Regions from separate parts of the Homo sapiens genome. Here region 2 is linked to region 1. The links come from fine-mapping of genetic effects on plasma protein levels. A gene starts in region 1. The other region holds a variant in brackets. All regions are shown on one strand. Distances are between the middles of the regions.

Region 1 (5,362 bases):
CTGGTGGTGACTGATTGGTGTTCTCTACTGTTCTTGGGATGGCTGGGTGGTCTTGGGTCGCAGAAGGGCCACTTACCTCCTGCTACCGGAATCCTCTTTCCTACTCCCGTGGGAGCTCAGTGAGAACCATCCCCAGGGCTTCATTGCTGCTTTCTCAGCCCCATTTTCTGGATAGGTGGGAGGGGAGAACTACATATATGATTCAGAGAATTTCTCTCATTATGCTCAAATGAAGTTAAAAGAAAGTGAAATTCTTTTTTGTGGGGAAGGGGAGAGGGATATGCTGAGCAGAAATTCTGGAGTTTGGAGCAGGGTCCTTGGAAGGGGGAAGGCCTGCGTGAGATTCCGAAATGGGTGGTGGTGGGGAGTATTTGGACAACCAGAAGACCCTGGAAGTCGAGGAGATGAGAGGGGGGACATTCATTTAGGCCAGGCTCCCAGCCTCGGGCCTCCAGGCCAAGCCTGCCTGGCAGTGTAATTCCTGTCAAGTTTTATCTTTTAACCTACACTTATCCAAAGCCGGTTCCTTATGCTCCCCAATTTTTGGAAAAAAAGCCAAGAGACCTTGTCAGATGCGAAGTCACTTCCTAGAACATGAGAGGCTTGGAGGAATGACAGGGAGGGCAGGCCTGAAGGGGGCTTTCCCCAACTCCAATCCCTAAGCCCTCTGTCCCAGACTCGTCACTACCCAGCTAGGGCCTAGGCTCGAAGCAGGCACAACTGGATGGCTGGGGGAGAAGATGGAGGGAGGAAGGTCGATGCCCCAGGACGGACCACAGGAAAGAGGCGTTCACAGGAGACTCGCTCTCTGTGCTTCCAAGGCCGGGAGCAGCCGCCTTCCCGCCTAAATCCTCAAGATGGAAGTTGCTCCCTCTAGCTTTCCCAATAGCTAAGGCTGCTGGTTTTGTTAGTGACCCCTCCCTTCTCGTCCAAGTCGATTTCTAGCATTTACTGGATTCCAGAGTCTTGTTATTTAAGAATGCATCTTAAACGGTACTATCAAATTCATGTTACGTGCAGCCCAGATTGTTTTGGGCAGCACGAAAAGTTTCTGAGGCGCTGCGTGTACCCCACCCCAGGACACCGTGTGTGCGCGCCGAGCTGAGTGCGAGGAACGTGGCGCGAGGGCCGGGGGATGCCGGGCTGCGTGGGTGTGAGCCCTCGCGCGACCGCGACCCCGCGCCTCTCCCGCTCTCGCCGGAACGTGACCGCAGCCGCACCTCTCCTCCAGCCCTTTCCCAGCCAGACGCTTCCTTTTAGGTCCTTCTGGGCGTTTATTGTAAATTCTGCGACTAAAACACGCCGGTGAGCCCGGCCCACCGACAGATGGATCAATCGCCCCCTTCCCGGCTAGGGGAGGAGGAACCCCCCAACCCCGGAGCCTAGGGAGCCGGGAGCTGCCTCGGGACGAGCTCCTCGGAGCCCAGCCGGCTGCGGAGCCCCGGCCCGGGTCGGTCTCGGGGCCCTCCTGCCGGGGTGGGGTGCGAGCCCCTGCCCGATTCCTCTGGGGCGGTTCAGGCAGGTTTGCCGGCCTCCGAGGAGGTGGTCAGGGCGCCCTGGCCCAGCAGGCTTCTTCCCGAGCCGGGGGGAGGGGAGACCGGCTGGGGAAGGGGCATCTCGAAGGGGTGGAGGCCGGGGCGGGCGGGAGGCAAGCGCGCCGCGGGCGTGAGGGCAAAGTTCCCGAGGTCCGCGCGGAGAGCACACGTGTATGTGCGCGCGGGGCTAGGCCGGGGCCGGCAGGATGCGTTGGGTTCGGGGGCGCGCGGGGCCGGCGCCGAAGGGGATAATTCCTTTCCCTGGCACCATCGGGGAGACGCTTTGTCGGCCTCGGCTCCTGGGCGCAGGGACGCCTTAGCCCACGGAGGGTGGAGCCCCCCTCAGACCCGGGCCACCGGCTGGGGTTTTTCTAACGCCCTGCCCCCCGAGCCCCCGGATGGCTCGGGCCCCACGGACTCCGCGCCCTCCAGCCTCAGCTCAGCTCCCCAGGCTTCCCAGACCCAGCGGCGCAGGGGGCGGGGGCAGGGGCAGTGGGGGTTGGAGGGCGCAGCCGGTCCCCAGGGTGGGGAGAGCTGCGGGGGGAGGAGGAGGAGGGTGCCGACGCTTGAGTGGGTTCGAGCCCGAGCCGTAGCCGGGGGAGCCAGTCAGTTTCCGGCCAAGGCAGCAGGTCAGTCCCAGGAAGGGCGGGCGATTGAGCCGAGGGAGCCGGCGGCTGGGCTCTCCTCTCGGCCCGCGATCCCCGGCGCCGCCGCCGCCGCCACCGCCACCGCCACCGCCTTCGCCTTGTCGCCGCCGCCGCTGCAGAGCATCGTAGCTCCGCCGCGCTCCCGCGCCCCGCGCCCCGCGCCGCCAGCCGCCTGGGAGCCCGAGCGCCGAGCCCGGGGCGGAGGAGAGGGGCGCTGGCGCGAGAGCCCGGGCGAGGGAGCCGCGAAGGGAGAAGGGGGCGGGCGGAGGGAGGAGCAGGGAGAGTGGGAGAAGGGGGAGGGAGAGAGGAGAGCGAGGGAGAGCTGGAGAGAGCGAGAGCAAAGAGCGAGCGAGGGAGAGGAGAGAGAGAGAGAGGAGAGAGAAAGACACACGCACGCAGAGACACACGGTCACTGGAATTCCATTAGAAAAAAGTGAGCCGAGCAAGGGTTAGCGGGAGAAGATTTTTTTGAATCTTGTCTTCGTCTTGGTGCGAAAGAAGCGACTCCAGTCTCTCGTCCTCGAAGCTCCGACTGGATTGTTCTTGGGCGCTGACACCCGTCTGTGGATTTCTTTTCTATTTGCATTTTATTCCGACCCCCTCCCTCGCCGCTTCCTTCCAGCCCTTCACTCGCAAATCGCCTCTCTCCCCACCTCCCCAGGCCCCTCCTGGGAAGCGCAGGGGAATTGGACCCGCGGGGACTCACGCCTTCCCGGACGATTGGAGGGGAGGGCTGACCCCAGGACTGGGCTGTTGGCTTAGAAAGCCGATACACAGATACGCGTATATTTGATTGTAGCGGGCAAGGGGGGCGTCGAGAGGCAGCAGCCCATCGCCCGCCTCTCACCCCACCCCCTCCAGCCAGAGGCGAGAATCGCAGGACTCGGGATCTTCATCGGGTGGACTAGCTGGGATCTCCGCATTGGATTTGGGGCTGATTACCACTGCTTGCCTATTATTATTGTTGTTGTTACTACTATTATTTTTTTTTACCCAAGGGAGAAAGACAAAAAAACGGTGGGATTTATTTAACATGATCTTGGCAAACGTCTTCTGCCTCTTCTTCTTTCTAGGTGAGTACCTGCGGGCGGCGAGCTCGAGGGGGAGGCGAGAAGCCGGGGAGGCGGGGGGCGAGCGGAGCGCCGGTGGGGGGCTGGCGGGAGGTCGGCGGGGAGAGCGCGCCGCGGAGCTAGCCGGGCCCGGTGCTGGCGAACCGAGCGGGGCCGGGCGGCAGGGACGCGGACGAGGGACCGGAGCCGCGGCTGGCTGGCGACGCAGGGGGATCGGGAGGGAGACTCAACATCCGAACCAGCCCCGCAGACACTGTGCACGCACACACACACCCGCGCTCGCTCACACGCCAGTATAGCGCGCATCTCCCCCGAAATAATGGGTTCGAATTGCGGCAACTTAAGAAAAAAAAATATCCAACTCTTGATCTGCAAGAAGGGAGGGAGAGAGAGGCTCCTAGGCGGGGAGAGAACAGTCCTGCGGGGTCCGCCTTTCCTGGTCTGCTCCCCGAGTCGGTCGTGGTGGAGGGCGCGGGTTTCTCCGGCGGCTCCCGCTTGGACATCGCGCGGGGAGCGCTGGCAGTCACTCCCCACCTGCCAGCCGCGCCTGGCAAACGGAGCCCGCGTCCCCACGCCCTGAGCCCCTAACCGGCGGCTCCACTCCCCGGAACACTTTTCAAGTTTCTCCCCACCGAGCCCCGAGCCAGATGGGTGGGCGGGAGCGGAGGGTTGTGAGCAGCCGTTCCCGGCCTTCCCTCCTCCACCTCTGGGGGCCGCGGACCCCCGTGGCTGGTGGGAAGAGGCGGGAGGGAGGCCAAAGTTTGCTTTCTCCGTTGAAGAGGGTGGGAGGCGAGGGAGGAAAAACGGGTCTGAACAAAGACCACTGCTCCTTCTGCAAACCCCCCCCACTGCCCCCCCCGCCGCCTCCAAGACAGGGAGGAGAGGCTGCCTGGCGCCACTGAGCCCCACGCAGTTTCTTTTCCACACAGAATTCCCAGCTCCTCTCTCCCTTTAAAGCTAGGTGAAATCGCAGCTGCTTGGGAAATGGCAATCTCCGGAGGGAGGTGAGGAAAGGCGGTTGTTTGCAAGGCTGTGCACCACCGGGAGTCCCAGGCAGGGCTGCTGCCAGGGAGTAGACGCTCCCATAGAGGGAGCCGGGTAACTACTGTGTATGTGTGTGTGTGTGTGAGTGTGTTTGTAAGGAGCACACGTCTGCTTCAGTGAGGGTGTAGTTCTACCACCTTGGCTTGCTGTGTAGCCAGTGTTGAGCCAGGCTGCCCAGCGGGGTCATGATCTCACCCTCTCCCTCCTGCAGTAGGGGATCTGGGAAGGCCACGAGTGGGGAGGTAGGAGCTGGTTACAGGAGGATGTGCGTGGTCTAAGAAGTGCTCGCCAGACTAGGATAGGGGACCGGAGTCATTGGGTGTCCACACAGGCTCTGGACTCTCTGCCTGTCCCCTCTGCTTCCCGCCAGGTGCGAGTCCCCAAGGGGGCAAGTCCCTGCTCTAGGGTGTGGCCTCAGAGGTCCTACCTCCCTCAGCCAGAGGCAGCTTCTCTCTGGGGTGGGAGGGGCTCCTCTAGGAAGCTGGAAGTTGCTCTGGGCCCGCTGTGATCCCGAAGCCCTTCCTGTCAACCCTGGCAAGTGGACTCTCATTCTGAAGGGGCTACTATAAAATCTGACCTTTTTCTCCCACTGCTAGCTTGAAAACCCAGCCTTCTGGGTCCAAGCATGATCAGGGCCAAGGTGAAAAAAAAATTGTATTTCAGGCAAAACAGCCAGATTGCCTACTGCTGAGCTGCATACCCCAGCATGGGCAGGGCTCCCAGGTGTGGGCACCATCTGTGGTCGGGGGCTGGAGAAGAGCAGTGTGGGCCCCTGGTCATTGCAGGCAGGCTTTCTCCAGCCGGGCAGGCTAAGGAGTCCACCTTTCTCCTTTTCAGAAGTGGCTGGGGTTCCTGCTCGTGGTGGGTGTGTATGTGTGTGCATGGGAGATGACCAGAGAGGCCCAACCCAATGTCTGCAACCCTGGAGGCTGAGTGTTGAGAGGCGGGGGTGAGAGCAGAAGAGCAGCAGGCTCAGCATCCCCTTGCTCCACAGCCCTTCAGTTTCCTTCCCTCGAGAAGTCCCCTTCTAAAGCTGGGCTGAGTGGAGTGACCACAGATACTGAAA
Region 2 (5,362 bases), 100 kb after region 1:
TTCATGCCAAAGGGGCTTGTGTGTGTGTGTGTGTGTGCGTGTGTGTGTGTGTGTGTGCGTGTGTGTGTGTGTGCGCACACACCCATGGCTTCACTTCTGCCAAAGGGGCTTTGTGTGAATGTGTTTGTGTGCATGCACCGATGGCTTCACTTCATGCTGAAGGGGCGTGTGTGTGTGTGTGTGTGTGTGTGTGTGTGCGTGTGCATCCATACATATGCACCTGTCTCTAGTTCCCAGCCACAGACTGTCGAATGCCTAAGATGAAGACTTTCCTTTACTCATGAGGATTGAAGCCCCAGTGTTCCCTGCCAGCTGGAGAAATTCTTTACCAGCATTTTCTGATCTGTGAAGTGAGTTGAAATTGGGCTGCCCCTCCCAAGGATGCTGAGGCTGGTCACTTACTGCATATTTTAAAAAATTTGTGTATTTATTTAAATATTTTTATTATTATTTTTTGAGACAGGGTCTCATTCTTTTGCCCAGGCTGGAGTGTGGTGGTGTGATCATAGCTCACTGCAACCTCAGGCTCCTGGGTTCAAGTGATCCTCTCACCCTAGACTCCTAAGTAGTTGGAACTACAGGTGTGTGCCACCACACCCTATTCATTTTATTATTTGGTAGAGATGGAATCCCACTATGTTGCCCAGGCTGATCCTAATTGTCTGGCCTCAAGGGATCCCCTGCTTCAGTCTCCCAAAGTCTGAAATTACAGGTGTGACCCACCCATGCTCCTGGCCCATACTGTGTTAATACAAGTAAACAGATTCATCGCCTGTTTGTTGCCCATTTTTTTAGAGTCTTAGTAGGGGTAGATAATCTTTTTTTTTTTTTTTTTTTTTTTTTTTTTGGCTGGAGTGCAGTGGTGCGATCTTGCCTCACTGCAACCTCTGCCTCCCAGGTTCAAGCGATTCTCCTGCCTCAGCCTCCCAAGTAGCTGGGATTACAGGCACCTGCCACCACACCCAGCTAATTTTTGTAAATTTTGTTTTTTTAGTAGAGATGGGGTTTCGGCATGTTGGCCAGGCTGGTCTTGAACTCCTGACCTCAGGTGATCCACCCACCTCTGCTCTCAAAGCGCTGGGATTACAGGCATGAGCCACCGTGACTGGCCCATTCATCTTTTAAAAATGGATTAAATTTTTTAGGAAAATCCAAAGTCATTTAGAAGCCAAACTGGTAAATAAGGTTGATGACATTCTCTGTGGTGGGTTTACATGGTGGAATGGCTGCCTTCTAGTCATTTACGGTGACTTTCAGGCAATCTTGTTCAATCTTGGTTGCCTCACCTACAAAATTGTATTGGATGATTCAAGTACTTTTCACCTCTAAACGAGCTCTGGAAGAGAGGAGACAGACTGAGACAGAGATGGACAGAGGCTGCTGAGGCTGACTAAGCAGTCAGCTGGGTTTTTCCGGCCCAGCACATCCCCTCCCCTGCAAGGAGTACCTCCAACGTCATGAGCGATGGGGGTGATCCCAGCCTGCCGAGGTGACCACATTGAATCTTTAAGGTCTGATGTGTGTTCTAAAAACTCAGCAGTATGGCTTCATCACTCTACCTCCTACATTCAAGCAAGTGAGTAAATAGAAAGGGCTCTGAAAACCTCACAAAGATGTTGTTTACACAATCAAGGCCATGCAGAGTGTCAATTAACCAGACATATTTGCCACATTCCTCTTTTAGTGTGAAGTGGAGTTTTTGTGCTGTACCTTCCAGAGCGGAAAAATGGTATCAAACATTTTAGGAGGATTTTAATAGCACTACTGCAAACCAAACCAAAACCAAATGTAGATACTTAAAAATATATATATTTAAGAATTAACTCATGCTTACATAGCCCTCTCCATGTGCCAGACATCATTCCAAAACTGTATGACTGTTACCTCATTTCATCCCCATTAGGATTCAGTGAGGCTGGTGCTGCAGCCCATTCTACAGACGAGCACACTGAAGTGTGGAGAGGTTACTCTCTGCCCCGAGATGCTACGGGGTGTGGCAGTGCTCAGACACAAACTTAGCAGGCTGGCTCGGGGCCCTGTGCTGTAACTGTCATGCCAGGCTGTCACCCTGAAATGAGTCACACATGCCACCTGTGTGCTCTGCCTGTGCTGACCACGGGGTGCTCCAGTTAACTGGGCTTTATCATTGCTCCTTCTCCTCCGTCTCCAGCAGCCTCATGCTTGTGCAGGTCGGCGGTGACAGACAATCCACAGATGAAGGGCTGAGTATACCTTTGTGGGCTTCACAAGGGAGCCCACAGAGCAATGAGGGGGGAGTTCTATAAGTGACTTCATTAAATCAAGTATGGTGTGGACTTGAAACGAGGGAGGAGGGAGTGGGGAGGAAGG[C/T]GGTGCCCAAGGACACAGGTCCCTGCTCAGAGCCTTTCCAGTGGGGTAGGGGGATGAGGGTGGCATTCCACTTCAGGGCTTGCCATCCTGATTTTGCTGGGATTGATAATGACCTTGCTGGGAATGGCTTTACTGGAAGCTGGCTTTTCCGGGAAAGAGACCGACCAGCTAGGATCTTGCTTGCTTGGACCTGCCTGGACAGCTCTTACCTTGGGGGCGCCATGGTTAAGAGGTTTGTAAATTTGGGAATTAGGCAGACCTGGGTTTGAGTTCCAGATTAGCCACTGACCAAGGGGGTGACCACGTCCAGTCTGAGTTTCAGTTTGCTCATCTGTGAAATGGAGATAGTGGTCCCTGCCTCCAAGGAGTGGTGTCAGGATTCAATGCAGTACCCTGCCATATGCCCTGGCATGCAGGGGTGCTCAGCCACTCCCTCGGTCCAGTGGCCACCCTGCCCCAGCCTCCAGGACTCCTCAGCACCTGCTGGCCACCGGGCTCCTTTAGGCATTGAGAGAAGCTGCACTGGGACCCATGCTTGGATCTTCTTCCTTCCTCCTCCTCTCTGTGGACTAAGAAGCTTTCACGGATTCCCCATGGCAGACGAAAAAATGACTGTGATCAGGCCCCTGGGATGTGTTCTTGCAAGCATTGCCAAGTGGAATTGAGAGGGCAGGAAGAGAGAAGACAGAGAGAGAGAAAAAAGAAACTTCCTTGTGTTGGTAAATAGAGTTGATGTGATCTGTGAGCCACTGGGGACAGTGGCTACAGAAGATGCAAATGTCACGCTCTTTGGAGTACCTTTGACTGGCTGCCTCCTCTCCACGCATGCAGGCAGAGGATGTGCTGCCGGAGCAAGTGCACCAGCTCAAAATGGTGAATAAATATTGATCAGATGTGGAGCTGAGCTGAAGGGAATGTCAACACCGATGGGAGGTGGGCAGGCATGGGGTTGCCCTGTCAGGCCTGATGCAAAAGCGGAGTGGGCTTTGCTACCTCGGGCTCCTAGGAGATTCCTCCAGGGAGAGCCCCAGGAGGGTATGAGTTCTGAGCCACCTCGATGTTTTCTAAGTAGAGCCACTTCTCCTTTGTGTGCTTTTCTGTATAGAGAAAAGGCTGGCAGGGGCTGGGCGTGGTGGTTCACACCTGTAATCCCAGCACTTTGGGAGGCCTAGGCGGGTGGATCACCTGAGGTCAGGAGTTCAAGACCAGCCTGGCCAACATGGCGAAATCCTGTCTTTACTAAAAATACAATATTAGCCAGGTGTGGTGGTGTGTGCCTGTAATCCCAGCTACTCAGGAGGCTGAGGCAGAAGAATCACTTGCACCCAGGAGGCAGAGGTTACAGTGAGCTGAGATCACGCCACTGCACTCCAGCCTGGGCAAAAGAGTGGGACTCCGTCTCAAAACAACAACAACAACAAAAAGTTTGGCAACGGGGTGAGAGTCTGATGACATAGTAAAGTCATTTCTTTTCTCAAGGAGTCTGGAATATACCAGAAGGAGTATCAGGGGATCCAGGTTCAAATGCTGGCTTTGCCATCCAGCAGCTGGTGACATCAGCTAGGTCACTGAACTTCTCTGAGCCTTGGAAAGTTTGCTCTAGGTCAGGGATGGGCACACTTTCTCTGTAAAGGGCCAGATGGTGAAAATGACAGGCCTTGTGTGCTATGCCATTTCCATTGCAACTAGCAACTGTTCTGCTGTAGTTCCAAAGCAGTCATAGGCAATGTCAATGACTAGGCATGGCTGTGTTCCAACAAAACTTTATTTACAGAAACAGGCACAGGCCAGATTTGGCTCATGGGCTGTAGTTTGCCAACCCCTGCTCTAGATGACCTCTGAGACCAAGCTGTCCACCCCAGGCAGTTGGAACTCTGAGGGTTTGCAGCGGGGAGTGACTGATGGGTGACAGGGCTGAAATCATCCTTAAGTTGGAGGAAGAGAGAGGGCACACTGGCCCATTGTGCAAAGGGAGGTGAACTCACATGGGAGTTGGTGGAGGAGAAAGCTGGGAGGAACCGTCCTGCATGCGGTCCAGAGGTGCAAGGAGAGAAGGCAGGTAGCCTGTGGACCAGGCACACATAGGTGTGGGCTGGAATGTGGGGACTTTGCTTGCCACTGTGAGATTGTACTCTGATCAGGGGCATCTGGTAAGCAGGGCGAATGGGGCTGAAAGCCAGCCACCCTCAACTCACCCATCTGTGCACCCAACCTGGGCCTCAGCCCCGAGGAGGGGGCATCATTCTCTAATTTGCACCAAGGTTTCTCTGTGTGCTTGCGGAGAACTTGTGGCCAAGAGCAAATGGAGCTGCCACCCCAGTGGCTGGGGAGGGGACAAGGGTCCTGAGTGCACAGAGAAGCCCCTGAGAGCGCTGCATGGCTGTGGGCAAGTCACTTACCCTCCCTGGACTCTCCTGCCCTCATCTTCAGAGGGAGAGGTCAGAGGGGCTGCTCCCCAACCTTCCCTCGGCAATGGGATTCTGTGATTCTGTGACTGGCAGCCATTCCTGAACTCACCGGCCTGGGGAAAAATGACTTGAAAGGAGGCAGAATTCATCTCCCTTTCAGCAAACACCGCCACATGCTTGGTTGCTTCAATTTTTCTCTGAGCCTCTAGTCCAGAGCTGTGGACTGCCACCTTAGAGCTTGCTCTGTGCGTGGCACCTTACACGCTGGCCTGTTCCCACTCCTTCAAGACAGCATTTCTTGGGAAGCCAACCTCTGGGGCCATGTGAAGCAATGACTCAGCCCCCGCCTGGCCTCCCTCCCTGGAGGAGGGCACACTTGAGTCACCACCTTGACCTAGACACTGCCCAGCATCAGAGGTCATGAAGTCTCCTACGCATGGACCAACCACCCTGGCAGAAAGTGACTAATCTCATCAAACATCTCTGTGGGAGGTTTGCACAACCACCGTGGTGAGCGTGACTGCGTGTGTTGAAGCTCTTACAGCCAGAAGAGAGTCTTCCAGGAAAAACTCTTTGATTTTTTCCAGCCCAGCACAGTGGACTGA

Alleles and levels. Alleles are on the strand shown, and positions count from the first base shown. The strength of an association depends on the size of the effect and on how common the allele is.
For the plasma level of the protein whose gene starts at base 2,500 in region 1, T is the low allele of the variant in region 2 and C is the other (weak association).

The links. A credible set is the group of variants that fine-mapping cannot tell apart. PIP is the posterior inclusion probability: the model's chance that the variant is causal. Protein levels are from antibody-based Olink assays in UK Biobank. Linkage for the fine-mapping came from a reference panel and not from the study's own genotypes, which makes the PIPs less certain.
Region 2: its variant is the best candidate, but not a certain one, in a credible set for the plasma level of the GFRA2 protein (UK Biobank, PIP 0.90).

Annotation. Positions count from the first base shown.
Region 1 is chr8:21,786,013-21,791,374 of GRCh38, reverse strand. GFRA2 (GDNF family receptor alpha 2) reads left to right here and starts at 2,500. Exons shown (of 9, transcript NM_001495.5): 1 at 2,500-3,255. The coding sequence starts at 3,216.
Region 2 is chr8:21,683,942-21,689,303 of GRCh38, reverse strand. No RefSeq gene overlaps it. Among named protein-coding and RNA genes, the nearest start is that of GFRA2, 100 kb to the left of the region's middle. The variant C/T (reference allele first, on the strand shown) is at 2,350.